Regions from separate parts of the Homo sapiens genome. Here region 2 is linked to region 1. A link means that fine-mapping ties the variant in region 1 to the expression of a gene that starts in the linked region. Tissue or cell type: whole blood. Region 1 holds a variant in brackets; the other region holds the start of a gene. All regions are shown on one strand. Distances are between the middles of the regions.

Region 1 (8,102 bases):
GCCAGCATAAAATACAAGCCAACTGCTGTTATCAGCAAATCAAGGTTGGAAGGTACTTAAAAAACAGGAAAAGCGTGTGGAAAATGCCTTGTCTTAGCGACTCTCAAATGCAATGTAATAAATGCTGGCTCTGAGGACAACGTACAAATCAGGCAATCTCAGGTGTGATGCCAAGAGGGAAAATGAGGTATTCATTCAATAATAGTTCATTGGCTGGGCGCGGTGGCTCACGTCTGTAATCCCAGCACTTTGGGAGGCCAAGGTGGGCGGATCACGAGGTCAGGAGATCGAAACAATCCTGGCTAACACGGTGAAATGCCGTCTCCACTGAAAAAAAAAATTAGCCAGGCGTGGTGGCGGGTGCCTGTAGTCCCAGCTACTCGGGAGGCTGAGGCAGGAGAATGGCATGAACCCGGGAGGCGGAGCTTTTAGTGAGCCGAGATTGCACTACTGTGCTCCAGCCTGGGCAACAGAGCGAGACTCCATCTAAAAAAAAAAAAAAATAGTTCATTGAAGGCCCATGTGCCAAGTACGCTATTAGATACCAGGACCTTGTCTACTCTGAGCCTGTAGAGTCTGCTCTTAATTTATTTTATTTTAGGGACAGTCTTGCTCTGTCACCCAGGCTAGAGTACTCTAGGTATGTGCCACCACACTCGGCTAATTTTTATTTTTTAATTTTTTTGTAGAGACAGGGGTCTCACTTTGTTGCCCAGTCTAGTCTCAAAACTCCTGGCCTCAAGTGATCTTACCTCAGCCTCCCAAAGTGCTGGGATTACAGGCGTGAGCCACTGCACCCAGCCTGCAATTTAGAAACATATAATGAAATGATGAGATTTGTTTTCATGAAATGATGAGATTTGTTTTCAAGACCTTCTATAATTTTAGTTGGCAGAGTTAGCTTTTTTTCCTCTCTACTGTGAATCCTAAGATATAATTTCACCTTTTATGCCCCTGTGTAACAACCCAGTGTATTCTCCTTCACATAGAAATAGATTGCTTGGCACAGGGGCTCACTCCTGTAATCCCAGCACTTTGGGAGGCCGAGGCGGGCGGATCACTTGAGGTCAGGAGTTCGAGACCAGCCTGGCCAACATGGTGAAACCCTGCCTCTACTAAAAGTACAAAAATTAGCCAGGCATGGTGGCGGGCACCTGTAGTCCCAGCTACTCAGGAGGCTGAGGCAGGAGAATCACTTGAACCTGGGAGGCAGAGGTTGCAGTGAGCTGTGATCACGCCACTGCATTCCAGCCTGGGAGACAGAGCGAAACTCTGTCTCAAAACAACAACAACAACAAAATTAGCTGGGCATGGTTGTGGGTGCCTGTAATTCCAGCTACTTGGGAGGCTGAGGCAGGAGAATTACTTAAACCCAGGAGGTAGAGGTTGCAGTGAGTCAAGATCGTGCCACTGCACCACTCCAGCCTGGGTGATAAAGTGAGACCCTTCTCAAAAAGAAAAAAGAAAAAAAGAAATATATCAAAGTAGGTATTAGGAGAAAGTGAGTAAGGGTCTATAGGTCTGATGTGAGGAAACTCAAGGAGACTGCTCCTTGGCTTCTCTAGAAAATCTACCACAAGAGATTTAATGTGGCCTTCAAGAAAGACCCTTGGAAGAAACCCTGGAAATGCTAAGACCTTGGCCAATGTCCCCTAACTTCTCAATGGGAAGTTATTTACTGGTTCTTATTCAGCTGAGACCACAACCTATGAGTACTGGAAAGATAACAGGAAGGAAGGGGAAAGGGAGATGTGAAAAAAGAGACAGAAATTAAAGAAAAATTCCACCCTTTAGTTGTGCCTTAGGTCTCCCCGAGTCCCAGTCAATACCCTGGGGCTTAATCCTGCTGCATCATTCTTCCAGTTTTCTATTAATAAAGGAAGTGCAAGGTGCTGTGTGCAGCTGTGAACATGCGGGTGCATACACACACACACACACACAGTTGGATTGTTGTTCAAAACTTGGGATGTTGTCTGTCTATCCTGAATTTTTCAGACATACACACCTTCCTCACCTGCTGCCAAGCAGCCCTATAGACAGTCTCCTGGGAATAGCAGGCCAACAGGAAAAGCTTGCTGAACTGCCAATGTGCAGACATTCACATGTCCCAGGCCCCAGCCCTGCACTCCCTAGGGTTCTTCTGCTCTAACACCACACAGAAGGAATATGAAACAGAAACTTGTTTCTGTCCTCTTTTCTTCTCCCTGCAATCTAAAAAACATTAATTCTCAAGGATATCTGGCCAAAGCATTGATTACTCTACAGAGTTCTTGCTATATTCAAGGGAGGAAACAATCTTGTGTTTTACTTTTAATGGCAATAGTGTATTTCTTGAGAATCTTCTCTTCCAACAGAATTAGCACACAAATCATCAGACAAGTGACCCTCAAGCCTGTAAGATGCCAATATTTCATTAGGTGAGAGGCCCTGAAAATGCTGCCCCATCTCCTGCACTTCTCTTTTACCACCGTTAAACATTCCTTTAGATTATTCCAAGTATGGATTCCCACACTTGGCTACACTTGCATGCCATCAGCTCAGTTTTTGCCAAATCTATTGTTGTGCACCATCTTTCTAAATATTTACAACAAAATCATAGTCCCTGATGGATTGTGGCAGGTCAGTCTTGGAGAGAGAAGGAAATGACCCTGACTGCCCTAGGATGTCCCAAGGAAACTAGCTGTGTATTTGAAGTATCCAAAAGGAAAGAAAAGGGAGGCACAGAAAGGATCGTATTAGCCACCATTTCAGTTTTGTTCAGAGCTAGCTTTGAATTCTGTCACCCAAAGCAAACCTCATTTGGGATAAATCTTCAACATCAGTAACATTTAGTCCCTTGAGAATATTACCTCAAATGGGGAAGTCAAAATCTCAAAAAGAAAATTACTTTCAATCATTATTCGAATACAATAGAAATTCTATGATTGCCTATTCACGTCAAAAATATTTCCTTATATGTAATAAATCAGTGTAGACTTGATTTCAGGATTGGATGTATGAAACTGACAGAAACTGATTTTAAAAATCTTTTATCTTGGTAAAACATTTTGGAATTCACAAAACATTTTCATATATTATGCCTTATTTAATCCTCACCACAGGCCTTTGAAAATATCCAAAGCCCGTTTTCTTTAACATTGTTTGTGGGGCATAGATATAAATTCCATATTCCCAGAAATCCTAGTACTTCCCTTCATGTTTTTGCTATGGTTTGAGGGGAAATTATAAGAAACATTGTATATCAGTTTCTCCATGGCTAATTTGGGGTAACTGCAAAATTCATATAAATAAGCTACTCAAGGTAATCTTGGTCAGTGAGTGTTTTATAAGGTAATTTATTGAAATGAGAGCTGAAGTTTGAATTGTTAGCTCAGCTATGCAGACGGCTTCACTGTGAGCATTGCACCACAGCCAGGCTCTCTCAGTGTAGATCAGAAGGACAGTTCACTGAACTCAGTAGGGCAGTACTGGCTGTGCCAGCTAGTACAATTCACAGCTTTATGGCCAGGACTGCAGAATCATGGCTTCCACTTCCCATCAGGGGAGAAAGCAGCAGCATCTGAGCAGATGAGAACGTTAGAAAAGAAAAGCTGGGCTATTATCTGAAATTGCACTGGCTTTGACTTGTCCAAAAGCTATTTCCCCTTGCAAAGTCACTTCGTGAGCACTGACTGTACCAGAATAATCAGCATGCTCTGTGGCTGGCTGAAGGGTGAGTCAGGATTCTAAATTCTAGCTGCAGTGCTGGGGAAAATGGAAACACCAGGCAAGGAGTACATCATGATGTCAGCAGTTTCCGAGGGCTGGTCAAAATGCCAGAAAACACGGCTGGTTTTACAATGCAATAAATGTATCTGAATGTTCCAAAAAAACGAGGCAAAGGATCTGTGCTCATGACATCTGCCCTCAAGCAGGTAGATGTTTTGATATGGTGTGCCTAGAACCTAACGTGCCACCAATTAAAGTGTATCGCTGGCATGCAAGGATGCAAAGAAAACACTGCTACATGTAAGGTGCAGCAGGCCCAAAGCTCCACAAGGTGGGCAGCCCCAAATGAAACCCCTTGGTCACTTCATCAGTGATCCAAATTCAAGTTTCAGAAATCATTCATCTATTCCTAAACTTTACAGCACGTTGAGAAACAATGACCACCAAAATGTCAACACAAAGTTTCACATAACTGACAAAAGATTGCTATGCAGAACATATAAAGAACTTTTAGGCTGGGCGCGGTGGCTCATGCCTGTAATCCCAACACTTTGGGAGGCTGAGGCAGGTGGATCACCTCAGGTCAGGAGTTCAAGACCAGCCTGACCAACATAGAGAAACCCCGTCTCCACTAAAAATACAAAATTAGCCGGGCATGGTAGTGCATGCCTGTAATCCCAGATACTCAGGAGGCTGAGGCAGGAGAATCGCTTGAACC[C/T]GGGAGGCGGAGGTTGCAGTGAGCCGAGATTGCACAAAACTCCGTCTTAAAAAAAAAAGAACCCTTACAAAGTAGTAAGAAAAAGACAACCCAACAGAAGAAATAAGCAAAATAGCAAAGAGGAAACCTGAATAGTCTACAAATATATGAAGAGATATTCAACCCCACTGGTAATCTGGGAAACGCTAATTGAAAAAAATGAGACACCAAATGGAAATTAATGTTCGCACAAAAAACCTATACATAAATGTTAACAGCAGCTTTATTTGTAATAGCCTAAACTTGGAAATAAACATAGGTCCTTCAATGAGTGATGGTTGAACAGACTGTGGTCCATCCATACCATAGAATACCAACAATAAAAGGGATTTTTTTTTGTTTTTCTTGGTTTTTTTTTTGAGATGGAGTCTCGTTCTATCACCCAGGCTAGAGTGCACTGGTGCAGTCTTGGCTCACTGCAACCTCTGCCTCCTAGGTTCAAGCAATGTGCCTGCCTCAGCCTTCCAAGTAGCTGTGACTATAGGCATGCACCATCACGTCCAGCTAATTTTTGTATATATATATTTTTTGAGATGGAGTCTCGCTCTGTCACCCAGGCTGGAGTGCAGTAGTGCAATCTCAGCTCACTGAAACCTCCGCCTCCCAGGTTTAAGCAGTTCTTTGCCTTAGCTTCCCAAGTAGCTGGGATTATAGGAGTGTGCCACCACGCCCGGCTAATTTTTATATTTTTAGTAGAGACGGGGGTTTCACCATCTTGGCCAGCCTGGTCTTGAACTCCTGACCCTGTAATCCACCTGCCTCTGCCTCCCAAAGTGCTGGGATTATAGGCGTGAGCCACCGCGCCCGGCCTACTTCTTGTATTTTTAGTAGAGACAGGGTTTCACCATGTTGTCCAGGCTAGTCTCAAACTCCTGGCCTCAGTGATCCGCCTGCCTCGGCCTCCCAAAGTGCTAGGATTAAAGGTGTGAGCCACTGTGCCCGGCCTTGGATTACTGATACATGCAACAACTTGGTGCTGAATATGCTGAGTGAAAAAAGCCAATCTCTAACGGTTACATACTACATGGTTCCTTTTATACAACATTTTGTTTAATTTTTATTTTTTTTCTTTTTAAGTTTCCACACACAATATTGAATACAACATTTTTGAAAGGATAAAATCTTTTTTTTTTTTTTTTTGAGATGAAGTCTTGCTCTATCACCCAGGCAGGGGTGCAGTGGTGCGATATCAGCTCACTGAAACCTCTGCCTCCTGGGTTCAAGCGATTCTCCTGCCTCAGCATCCCAAGTAGCTGGGATTACAGGTGCCCACCACCACGCCTGGCTAATTTTTTTTAGATGGAGTCTCTCCCTGTCATCCAGGCTGGAGTGCAGTGGTGCAATCTCGGCTCACTGTAACCTCTACCTCCTGGGTTCAAGCAATTCTCCTGCCTCAGCCTCCCTAGTATCTGGGACTACAGGCACGCGCCACTGCACCTGGCTAATTTTTGTATTTTTAGTTGAGACGGGGTTTCACCACATTGGCCAGGCTGGTCTCGAACTCCTGACCTCGTGATCTGCCTGCCTTGGCCTCCCAAAGTGCTGGGATTATAGGCGTGAGCCACCGCGCCTGGTCTAATTTTTTGTATTTCTTTTTTTTTTTTTTTTTAGTAGAGACGCGGTTTCACCATGTTGGCCAGGCTGGTTTCGAACTCCTGACCTCAAGTGATCTGCCTGCCTTAGCCTCCCAAAGTGCTAGGATTACAGGCATGAGCCACCTTGCCCAGCCTGAAAGGATAAAATCTTGCAAATGAAGAACAGAGGTTAAAAAGAAGGGGGAGGCCAGGTGCAGTGGCTCACACCAGTAATCCCAGTACTTTGGGAGGTCGAGGCAGGCTGATCACTTGAGGCCAGGAGTTCCAGACCAGCCTGGCCAACATGGTAAAACCCCGTCTTTACTAAAAATACAAAAATTAGCCAGGTGTGGTGATGCATCCCTGTAGTCCCAGCTACTTGGGAGGCTGAGGCACAAGAATTGCTTGAACCCAGCAGGTGGAGGTTGCAGTGAGCTGAGATTTTGCACGACAGGAAGATCCTTGTGTTTTAACTGTTCTGTATCTTGAGTGTGGAGGTGGATACATGGACCTACATATGACATAAAATTATATATAATTAAATGCATTCACACACACATAAAATGAGTCTGAGTAAAACTAGGGAAACTTGTACAAAATTGGTGGACTGTGCCAATTTTGATATTCTGGTTGTGACTATACTTTTGCAAAGTATTATCATCAGTAGGATCTGGGTTAACGGTATGCAAGTTCTCCGTATTATTTCTTTCGACTACATATGAAATCTACAGTTATCTGAATAAAATTTTTTTTTTTTTTTTTTGAGACAGAGTCTCGCTCAGGGTGGAGTGCAGTGGCACAATCTTGGCTCACTGCAACCTCCGCTCCCAGGTTCAAGCGATTCTCCTGCCTCAGCCTCCTGAGTAGCTGGGACTACAGGTGCTCCCCACCATGCCCAGCTAATTTTTTGTATTTTTAGTAGAGATGGGGTTTCGCCACGTTGGCCAGGATGGTCTCAATCTCCTGACTTCGTGATCCACTCGCTTTGGCCTCCCAAAGTGGTGGGATTACAGGCATGAGCCACTGCGCCCAGCCTGAATAAAAATTTAAATAAAAAGAGACACCATGTTTCACCCATGAGATTGGCAAACAAATTTTAAAATCTCACAGTATAAAGTTCTGGCAAGGGTGTAAGAAACATGAAGCCTTCATCCACTGCTACTGAGAGTATAATTAGCTATGGCCACTTTTGAGAGTAATATGACAAGCAACCAGTGAAATTTAAAATATCACCCTTCATTGCTCAACATTCACCTTCTGGGGCATATATACTCTAGAGAAATGATTCTGCATGGGCCTGAAAAAATTTGCAAATTTGCATGTAAGGGTTTATGATAGCAAAGGAGTGAAAATAATGTAAATATCCTCTAATAGGTGAATGAACAAATAGAACATAGTTTATTTATAATATAAAGCAGCATAAAGTAATGAACTTGATGAGAATGAACATATATATATATACACACACACACACACGCAGATAGATCTTAGAGACACAATATCAAATTTAAAAAGCAAGTTACGGATTGATATTTACTTATTCAACAAATACTTGGGTGCTTACCATGTGTCAGGAGCTGTTCTAGGAGCTAGCAGTACAGCAGAAAACAGACAAAGCAAGATAAAGTCTCTGCTTCACATATCTTACATTCTTGTACAGGAACACAAGCAAATAGACACAATACTATTTATGTAAAAATGTTAAGGGTGCATGTATGGTTTGGAATATATATCACATGTATACACATACACATACATATGTTAATGTATACACACATTTTTTAACTGCTCCTTGTGGAGCAGGGGTACTCTAAAAGCAGTGTGCCTAGGGAAGCCATACTTTTTAAAAAATAATATTTAAGGCTGGGCATGGTGGGTCAGGCCTGTAATGACAGCACTTTGGGAGGCCAAGGCAGGTGGATCACCTGAGGTCAGGAGTTCAAGCCCAGCCTGACCAACAAGGTGAAACCCCATCTCTACTAAAACTACAAAAATTAGCTGGGCGTGGTGGTGTGCACCTGTAATCCCAGCTACTTGGGAGGCTGAGGCAGGAGAATCACTTG
Region 2 (8,102 bases), 73 kb after region 1:
CAGAGTGCTCACCATTACAACACGGAATCTCACAATCCTACTTTTAATTTTGTAATATTTTGTAGCAAGCACCCCTCTGTATGAAAGACACAGGGTATTGTGGTTGGCATCTGGCCTTCATGGTGTTTTTTCACTTGGGGGCACATTTTCAGCACTAGCCTTGGCATCACCACATAAAGAAAATTTGGGGCCGAGCGTGGTGACGCACACCTGTAATCCCAGCACTTTGGGAGGCCATGGCAGGAGTATCATTTGCTTGAGCCCAGGAGTTCAAGACCAGCCTGGGCAACATAATAAGACCTCTACAAAAAATAAAAAAATTAGCTGGATGTAGTAACGCACGTCTGTGGTCCCAGGCCTGTGGCCGAGTACAAGAGGCTGAGTTGGGAGTATGGCTTGAGCCCTGGAGATTTGAGGTGGCAGTGAGCCGTGATTGTACCGCTGCACTCCAGCCTGGGCAACAGAGGAAGACGCTGTCTCCCCCACACCCCTACCCCCCCAAAAAAAGAAGAAAACTTGTCTGATAGTGTTGTAGGTTTATATTTTAATAATGGCAAGTGTAGAAAGAAAAAGATGAAAGGAGAAAGAAGGAAGGAGAAAACCAGGTACGAATGTCCCTTTAGCCACTTGGAGGAGGTCTGATCCAGGGAACATTGCCAGTATGGGATACCCTCTTTATCATCTGAGATGGTGCCACTGCATGGCAATGACACAAACAGTTAAAATGCATTCAGCTCACCCACCACTAGCTTTAAGAATGTTAAATTCTTGGCCGGGCGCGGTGGCTCATGCCTGTAATCCCAGCAGTTTGGGAGGCTGAGGTGGGTGGATCACAAAGTCAGGAGATTGAGACCATCCTGGCTAACACAGTGAAACCCCGTCTCTACTAAAAATATAAAAAATTAGCCAGGCATGGTGGCTGGAGCCTGTAGTCCCAGCTACTCAGGAGGCTGAGGCAGGAGAATGGTGTGAACCCGGGAGGCGGAGGTTGCAGTGTGCAGAGATCGCGCCACTGCACTCCAGCCTGGGCAACAGAGTGAGACTGTGTCTCAAAAATAAAATAAAATAAATATGTTTCTTGGCCGGGCATGGTGGCTCATGCCTGTAATCCCAGCACTTTGGGAGGCCGAGGTGGGCGGGTCACCTGAGGTCAGGAGTTCAAGACCAGCCTGGCCAACACAGCAAAACACTGTCTCTACTAAAAATACGAAAATTAGTTGGGTGTGGTGGCACACGCCTGTAATCCCAGTTACTGGGGAGGCTGAGGCAGGAGAATTGCTTGAGGTTGCAGTGAGCCAAGATCAGGCCATTGCACTCCATCCTGGGCAACAAGAGTGAAACTCTGTCTCAAAAAAAAAGTTAAATTCTTGACCAATTTTTTTTTCTTTCTTTCTTTTTTTTTTTTTTTTTTGAGACAGAGTCTCGCTCTGTCGCCCAGGCTGGAGTGCAGTGGCATCATGTTGGCTCACTGCAAGCTCCACCTCCTGGGTTCACGCCATTCTCCTGCCTCAGCCTCTGAGTAGCTGGGACTACAGGCGCCGGCCAACACACCCGGCTAATTTTTTGTATTTTTAGTAGAGACGGAGTTTCACCATGTTAGCCAGGGTGGTCACGATCTCCTGACCTCGTGATCCGCCCATCTTAGCCTCCCAAAGTGCTGGGATTACAGGCGTGAGCCACCGTGCCCGGCAACTAAATTCTTGACCTATTTTAAAAATTTTGCAATATAGGCCGGGTGCGGTGGTTCACGACTGTAATCTCAGCACTTTGGGAGGCCGAGGTGGGTGGATCATGAGGTCAGGAGATCGAGACCATCCTGGCTAACACGGTGAAACCCCGTCTCTACTAAAAATACAAAAAATTAGCTGGGCATGGTGGCGGGCGCCTGTAGTCCCAGCTACTCGGGAGGCTGAGGCGGGAGAATGGCGTGAATCCGGGAGGCGGAGCTTGCAGTGAGCCGAGATCGCGCCACTGTACTCCAGCCTGGGTGACAGAGCGAGACTCCGTCTCAAAAAAAAAAAAAGTGCAATATACATTTTTTCAAATTTGGTGTATTAAATGAAACATAAATATTTTTTAATTGCTGCATTTCAAATTAGCATGATTCCATTTCAAATAAAATGCCACTGTGCTACTCAGGAATTTACCACCAAAAGAGGAAATGCAGATATTAGACAGCTTTATTGAGGTATAATTTACATACCATAAAACCCACAGGTTGTAAGTTTACATTTTAATGATTTTAATAAACTTGAGGAGTTGTGCAACCCTTACCACAGTCCAATTTTAGAATCACCCCGCAAAGGCAAGGGAGTGGTGCCTGGGTTTTCTGACAAAATCTATACTCAGACCAACATGTCCCCTGCCCCAGCCCAACCAGTTCCAGGCTAGAGCAGTGGAAAGGCCAGTTAGCTATCCAACCACCGTCTACCCCTACGCTTCATCCTGGCTCCTGGATTCCACACCATTTTGTGCTGTGGTAGCTGCTCTGAGCTGGGGGCAGGCCTTGTTTTCTGGAGTTCTGGACTTTGACCTGAGCTAGTCCCAGCATGCAGAAACCTTCCATCCCATCTCCTGTCTACTTCTACCCTGGAGTGGAGGTTATTTCCTGCCTCTCTAACTCTCCGCTCCCATCAGGTGTACCAAAGTGGGGCTCTCAATTGCTTTTCAGTGGCACTTTGGGGTTTCCTGTCTGATTCTGTTGGGTATTTCCCATGGGAGTGGAGTTCAAACTTTCAGAAGAAACAACTCTTCTGCCTTCTCCACGGGGTCTGCCTTTGCAGACTGCTCATTCAGTCCCTTTCTATCTTGACCTGAAAGGTTGGCTGGGGTCCTCACAGTGGCACTGGGGGACTTGCTCTCTGCGAAGTCTCCTTCAGCTTGAAGACTTTCCCCTTTTCTCCTGGATTTTTGTCTGCTTTGTCCACAGGTGCATTACAAGGCCCCAGGACAATGCCCGCCTGTAGTAGCCATTCATTAAATATGTTGAATACCTGGAATTGGAGTGCCACAAGGAAGCTGTCTAGAGGGGTAAGGGGTGCTGTCAATTCCTTCCCATCTTCGGAGCTGGGAAGCCCAGTCCTGTTGGATCTAGTATAAGCTTCTTACAGATGTTTGGGTCTCCTTTCTCTGAGGCGCCCTGGTTCACTGGGCCAACTCAGGAGTTGGTCTGCCCTTCCTCAGAAATCCCTTCAAGTTTTTCTGTTCCTCTTCCTAGACTGGTGCTTTTTGGCTGGGTCAGTTTCCCAAATGGGCCTGTAGCTGCTCTGAGCTGGGTCATCCAGCCGTTTAGCAGCTGCTTCAACCACTGCTAGGCTGCCTTTTGGAGACAAGAGCTCCCAGCTCCTCCTTCTGGCCTAGCTTCCCATCAAATGGGGCCCTGGGTCCTCTCCTCACAAGGATTTTGGGCTCCTCCGCAGTTTTGTAGCCAGCCTGGATTCTGGCCTTCTGCAGCCTGCTCCCTCCCTTCCCTTCCGCCCCTGGGAAGAGCGACCCCCACCACTCTCGGAGACTGCACTGCCCGCCTGTCAGAGTGGGCACTCAGGTGACACTGCTGTGGTCGTCCCCTTCCTCCGTGATCCATTCCGGAGGGGGTCATTCTTAGTCTAGGCCTGCAGGCCCGGAGCTCCAGCCATGGTCTCCGCCTGTCCCTGACCGGCGGTCTGGGAGGCAGCAGGTAGGGGATCCCGGGCAGGCGGACCAGGCCTGGGTGGGGGGCGAGCAGGAGGCGCGGGACAGCACCTGGGGGTCCCAGCTGATGAAGGGTCGGGGTGGGCAGCGGTTTGGGGGCCAGACGGATCCGCGGTGTGGGCGCGCCGGGGTGTTGATGGAGGAGGGGCCGAGGTGCTGAGGGCGGGGTCGGGCTGGGGTCGGGGCTGAGGGCGGAGTCGGGTGGGGCGGAGTCAGAGCTGAGGTGAGCCTGAGGGCGGAGTCGGGGCGGGCTGAGGTGGGCCTGTGGGCGGAGTCGGGGCGGTGTGCTGAGGTGGGCCTGAGGGCGGAGTCGAGGTCGGGCTGAAGGCGGAGTCGGGGAGGGCTGAGGTGGGCCTGAAGGCAGAGTCGAGGTCGGAGCTGGGGACGGAGTCGAGTTCGGGCTGAGGGCGGAGTCGGGGCGGGCTGAGGTGGTCCTGTGGGCGGAGTCGAGGTCGGGCTGAGGGCAGAGTCGGGTCGGAGTCGGGGCGCGCTGAGGTGGGCCTGGGGGCGGAGTCGAGGTCGGAGCTGAGGGCGGAGTCGGGGGCGGGGACGTAGGCGGAACCCGGGTCGGGCTGAGGTGGGCCCGAGGGTTGGGCTGGGGGCGGAGTGGGTGCCAGCCTGAGGGCGGAGCCGGGGGCGGGCGGGGGCGGGCTGGGGCGGGCCTACAGGCCAGACTGGTGTGGCACGGAGCTGAGGACCGGCCGGAGCTTTGCGGAGGGCCCGGCTTGGCGGGTCCGGGGGGGAGCCGAACCCGCGGGGCACCGGGTCCGGGCGGGGCCGAGCCGGGCCGGGGCGGGAGCCAGCCGGGGTGGGGCGGGGCCGAGGCCGAGGCAGGCGGTCGGCAGTGCTGGGGGTTCAGGTGTTGCGGCGGCTCCACGTAGCCAGGCGGCCCGTGGGCTGGAGCGGGCGGAGCTCGGCCCGCGGCTTGCGTGAGCTCAGGCCGGTCCCAGCGTCCAGAGCGCCGGCCCTTCGGCTTCTTCTAGGCCATGGCAGGGCCGGGCCCAGGCCCGGGGGACCCGGACGAGCAGTACGATTTCCTGTTCAAGCTGGTGCTGGTGGGCGACGCAAGCGTGGGCAAGACGTGCGTGGTGCAGCGCTTCAAGACCGGCGCCTTCTCGGAGCGCCAGGGAAGCACCATCGGCGTCGACTTCACCATGAAGACGCTGGAGATCCAGGGCAAGCGGGTCAAGGTGGGAGGCCGGCCAGGGCCCCTGGAAGGCGCTCCCTCGGAGGGTGGGGCGGGGGCAGCGGAGCCCCTGGCCGCGGCGAGCGCACCCCGCGTCCATCTGAAGTTTCCTTTGGCTTCCCCTTTTTCCTTCCTCGGGTCGGAGCAGGCCTGGGCCCCGGGGTCTGGGCCGGGTTCAAGTCCTCAAAGCGCCGGCCGTGGGTTGCTGGGGGGGGGGGGGGCGAGGGAGTGTGGAGGAGGCGGCCCTGCCCTCCGGAGCTCACACCCTAGGAGGGGACTGTGCTCCAAAATAACTTTAGCCATTGGAAGGCAGGGGGTTAGACTCCCCTGTTCCAGGTACTAGCGGAGCGCCTTGGAGTGCGGAGATCAGACCCCCCACCTCCATCCACCGCGATGGCAGCCCCCAGCTCAGCCCACCGGCGGGGCACTCAGCCAGAGAACTGCATCCCCACCCCAGGACTAGGAGCGATCAGGAAGTAGTTGCTTTTAGGACCAGAGGGCCAAAACTTTTTGTCAGAATTTCCGGCCTGGCCACGCCTCCCTGCAGTCTCTTTGTGGACCTGGTGGTGGAACTTTACTCGACTAGGGCCAGCCCCGGTTCCCTCCCCCAGCTGGAGTTTGATAGAAACTGAAAACTTCACAGATACCGGAAGGTGGGGGAGAGAACCAAGCTTTGGCAATGGCTCCGAATAAAAACAGCAGGATGTGGTTGCCACAATGTCCTGGCAGTGGTTTGATAAATATTTGTGATGAATGAAATCAGAGTTTCTTAACCTAGGTGTTAGTACTCCCTAATCAACCAGGAGATCCTGGGCTGAAGGCACTCAGTAACTTTTCTGAACCGCACTGTACAGAAATCTTTGCTTGCTTTCATGGTTTCGAGCCCCCATGATCTTCAGGACACCCTCAGGGCACAGGGCTGGGACGATCTCTGCCAGGGAGATGGGAGTCACTGGAGCCTTGCTGCTGCTGGGCTCTGCCTCTCCGGGTGGCTCTAGGCCTGCTCCTTGTTGCCTTTGGCTAGGATATGTAGCTCTTTGTCTTTGTTTCTATAAAATTGGGATAATTTCTGGGTGTTGCCTCCCTCCTGCCCCAAGGTGGAGAAAAAAGTAAGTCAACAGTCTTTATGTGTCCACAGTGCCTCTCAGTAGATGTGACGGGGAAGCAGAAACTCCTGCCTGAGGGGTTTTATTATTATTATATTTTAATCGTCTTCTGGGGTCTGTGTTTTGGTCTCCGTGGATGGAAAAGAGCAAGGTGCAGAAGGCAGCTTTGAGTCACTCGGGACCACCCTTTTGGAGCAGGTAGCCAGGGAAGGGCTGGAGTGGGTGGAGTGTCCGTTATTGAGTGTGCCCAGTGATGATGCCAGCAGCTGCAGGGAAATGGGAGTGTGAAAATACAGGCTAAAGAGCAGTGGTGTCCTCCTCATGTGCTATCGGTCTGTGTCTGGAGTGTCTGTGGTGGCCCAGTGCTGACGGTGGTCAGGGAGGGGGCAGGGTTCCTGTTTACCTGTTGAGATAACAGACTGTGTCCCAGCAGAGCTCCTGGTTTACTGCGCACGGGTTATGCAATGCAGGGCCAGGCAGTTCGTTATTTTCTTTCCTTATGGTTGCCTCCAGATTGTCCTTCCTAGGAAGCAGCCCGGGGCCCAGGGAGCAGAAGAGCTGTGTAGCTGTGGTAAACACCTCTCCAAGTTATAGCCGCTGACCTTCTTGAGAGGCTGTTGGGAATCAGCTGGGTTACAGGTGCATTCTCTGCTGACTGGAGGGAATTCTTACCCCCGCTCACACAGGATGGAGCCTGGGCACACAGCTAAGAAGTGATAGAGGTGGGAATATTTTTCCCAGTTTTTCTGACTCCAAAGCAGATTTCTCCCCCATAGTGGACAGCTTTTCAGAATCCCGTTGTCTGTGGTGGGGAAGCCTCTGGCAATTGTTTACCACCTCATTTTGCCGGCAGGAAAACCTGAAGTCTAACTCACTGCAGAGGCTCCAAATTAAAGCTGGGCAGCCGTGAACTTGAGGGAACACTGTCCTTCGAGTCAGGCTTCCTGGGGTCCGCTGCCGCAGCAGGAGCAAGCCATTTTCCCTCCTCCATCTGTAAAGTGCCTCTGAGTAGTCTTTTGGCAATGTGATTTTAAGTCAAGTTTTTTGAGGTCTAATTTACACACGGTAAACCTTCACCACTTGAGGTGTTACAGGTCTATGAACTTCTCAAACTTACACAGACAAGCAGCCACATCACTATCAAGATGGAGAATTTTTCCACCAACCCAGAAAGTTCTTTTGTTCTTCTGTAGTCAGTTCCTTTCACCTCATCCTGTGGCAACCCCCGATCTGTTTTTTGTCTCTGTAGTTTCAGCAGTGTGATTTTAACTGAAAGCCTTGATGAACCAGAGCTTATTGTTGTTTTTTCTGTGGAAAGCAAGTGCACATCAGGGATTCAGTGTAAAACCTTTCCAGGGGCCGGGTGCAGTGGCTCATGCCTGCAATCCCAGCACTTTGGGAGGCCGAGGCAGGAAGATTGCTGGATGTCAAGAGTTCGAGATGAGCCTGGCCAGCATAGTGAGACGTGGTATCTATTTAGAATAAAATAAAATAAACCTTCTCAGGGCCTGTCTTGGGAAGCCCGAGATGCTTGTCCAGCAAGCATCCAGTCTTATATCCTAAAGCTTTCCCTGTGATTCTTTACAATGATGCTGGGTTTTATTAGAGCTTCAGGAAGCTTAGAGATGGATCACCTGGTGGTTTTCTAGCTCCTGTGAGCTTGGAGGTACTGAAAGGTAAGGAGAAAAGCCAAGAGGTCAGAGAGAGGGTCAGAAGGGCTTTAACTAGCTTCCCAACCAGTCAGAGCAATACCTTTATCTAGTTGTAGGTTGAAATTCTTGTTATTTGACTAAAGAATTCTCCTGCTAAAAAAACCGAAACATTTGAGAATCACAGATTTAATCAAATTACTTTATTTCTGTAGCCACTTCCCATTACAACCAGAATAACCTCCAAACACCTTCCCCAAAGAGATGGACCTCTGGAAGGAGACAAAGTTGGAGAGGCAGACAGAGGCCCATCTCTACCCTTCACTGCCTGCTCTCCAGCTTCACTAGCCCTTCAACATGGTGGGCTTACCCCTGCCTCAGGACCTTTGCATCTCTTCCCGTGCCCATCATACTCTGCCTCTAGATCCCCACGTAACTGCTACTTCATCATTCAGGTCCCAACGCAAATGC

The links. PIP is the estimated chance that this variant, and not a neighbour inherited with it, causes the effect.
Region 2: RAB43 starts here. The variant in region 1 is fine-mapped to the expression of RAB43 in whole blood (TOPMed, PIP 0.92).

The regions. Positions count from the first base shown.
Region 1 is chr3:129,191,522-129,199,623 of GRCh38, reverse strand. LOC105374101 (a long non-coding RNA gene) reads right to left here. Exons shown (of 2, transcript XR_924469.3): 2 at 3,320-3,559. Among named protein-coding and RNA genes, the nearest start is that of CNBP, 12 kb to the right of the region's middle. The variant C/T (reference allele first, on the strand shown) is at 4,427.
Region 2 is chr3:129,118,064-129,126,165 of GRCh38, reverse strand. It overlaps RAB43 (RAB43, member RAS oncogene family), which reads left to right and starts at 4,362. Exons shown (of 3, transcript NM_198490.3): 1 at 4,362-4,880. The coding sequence starts at 4,677. All of the region lies in intron 11 of ISY1-RAB43 (ISY1-RAB43 readthrough), which reads left to right. RefSeq lists silencers at 4,133-4,352, 4,373-4,552 and an enhancer at 5,333-6,278.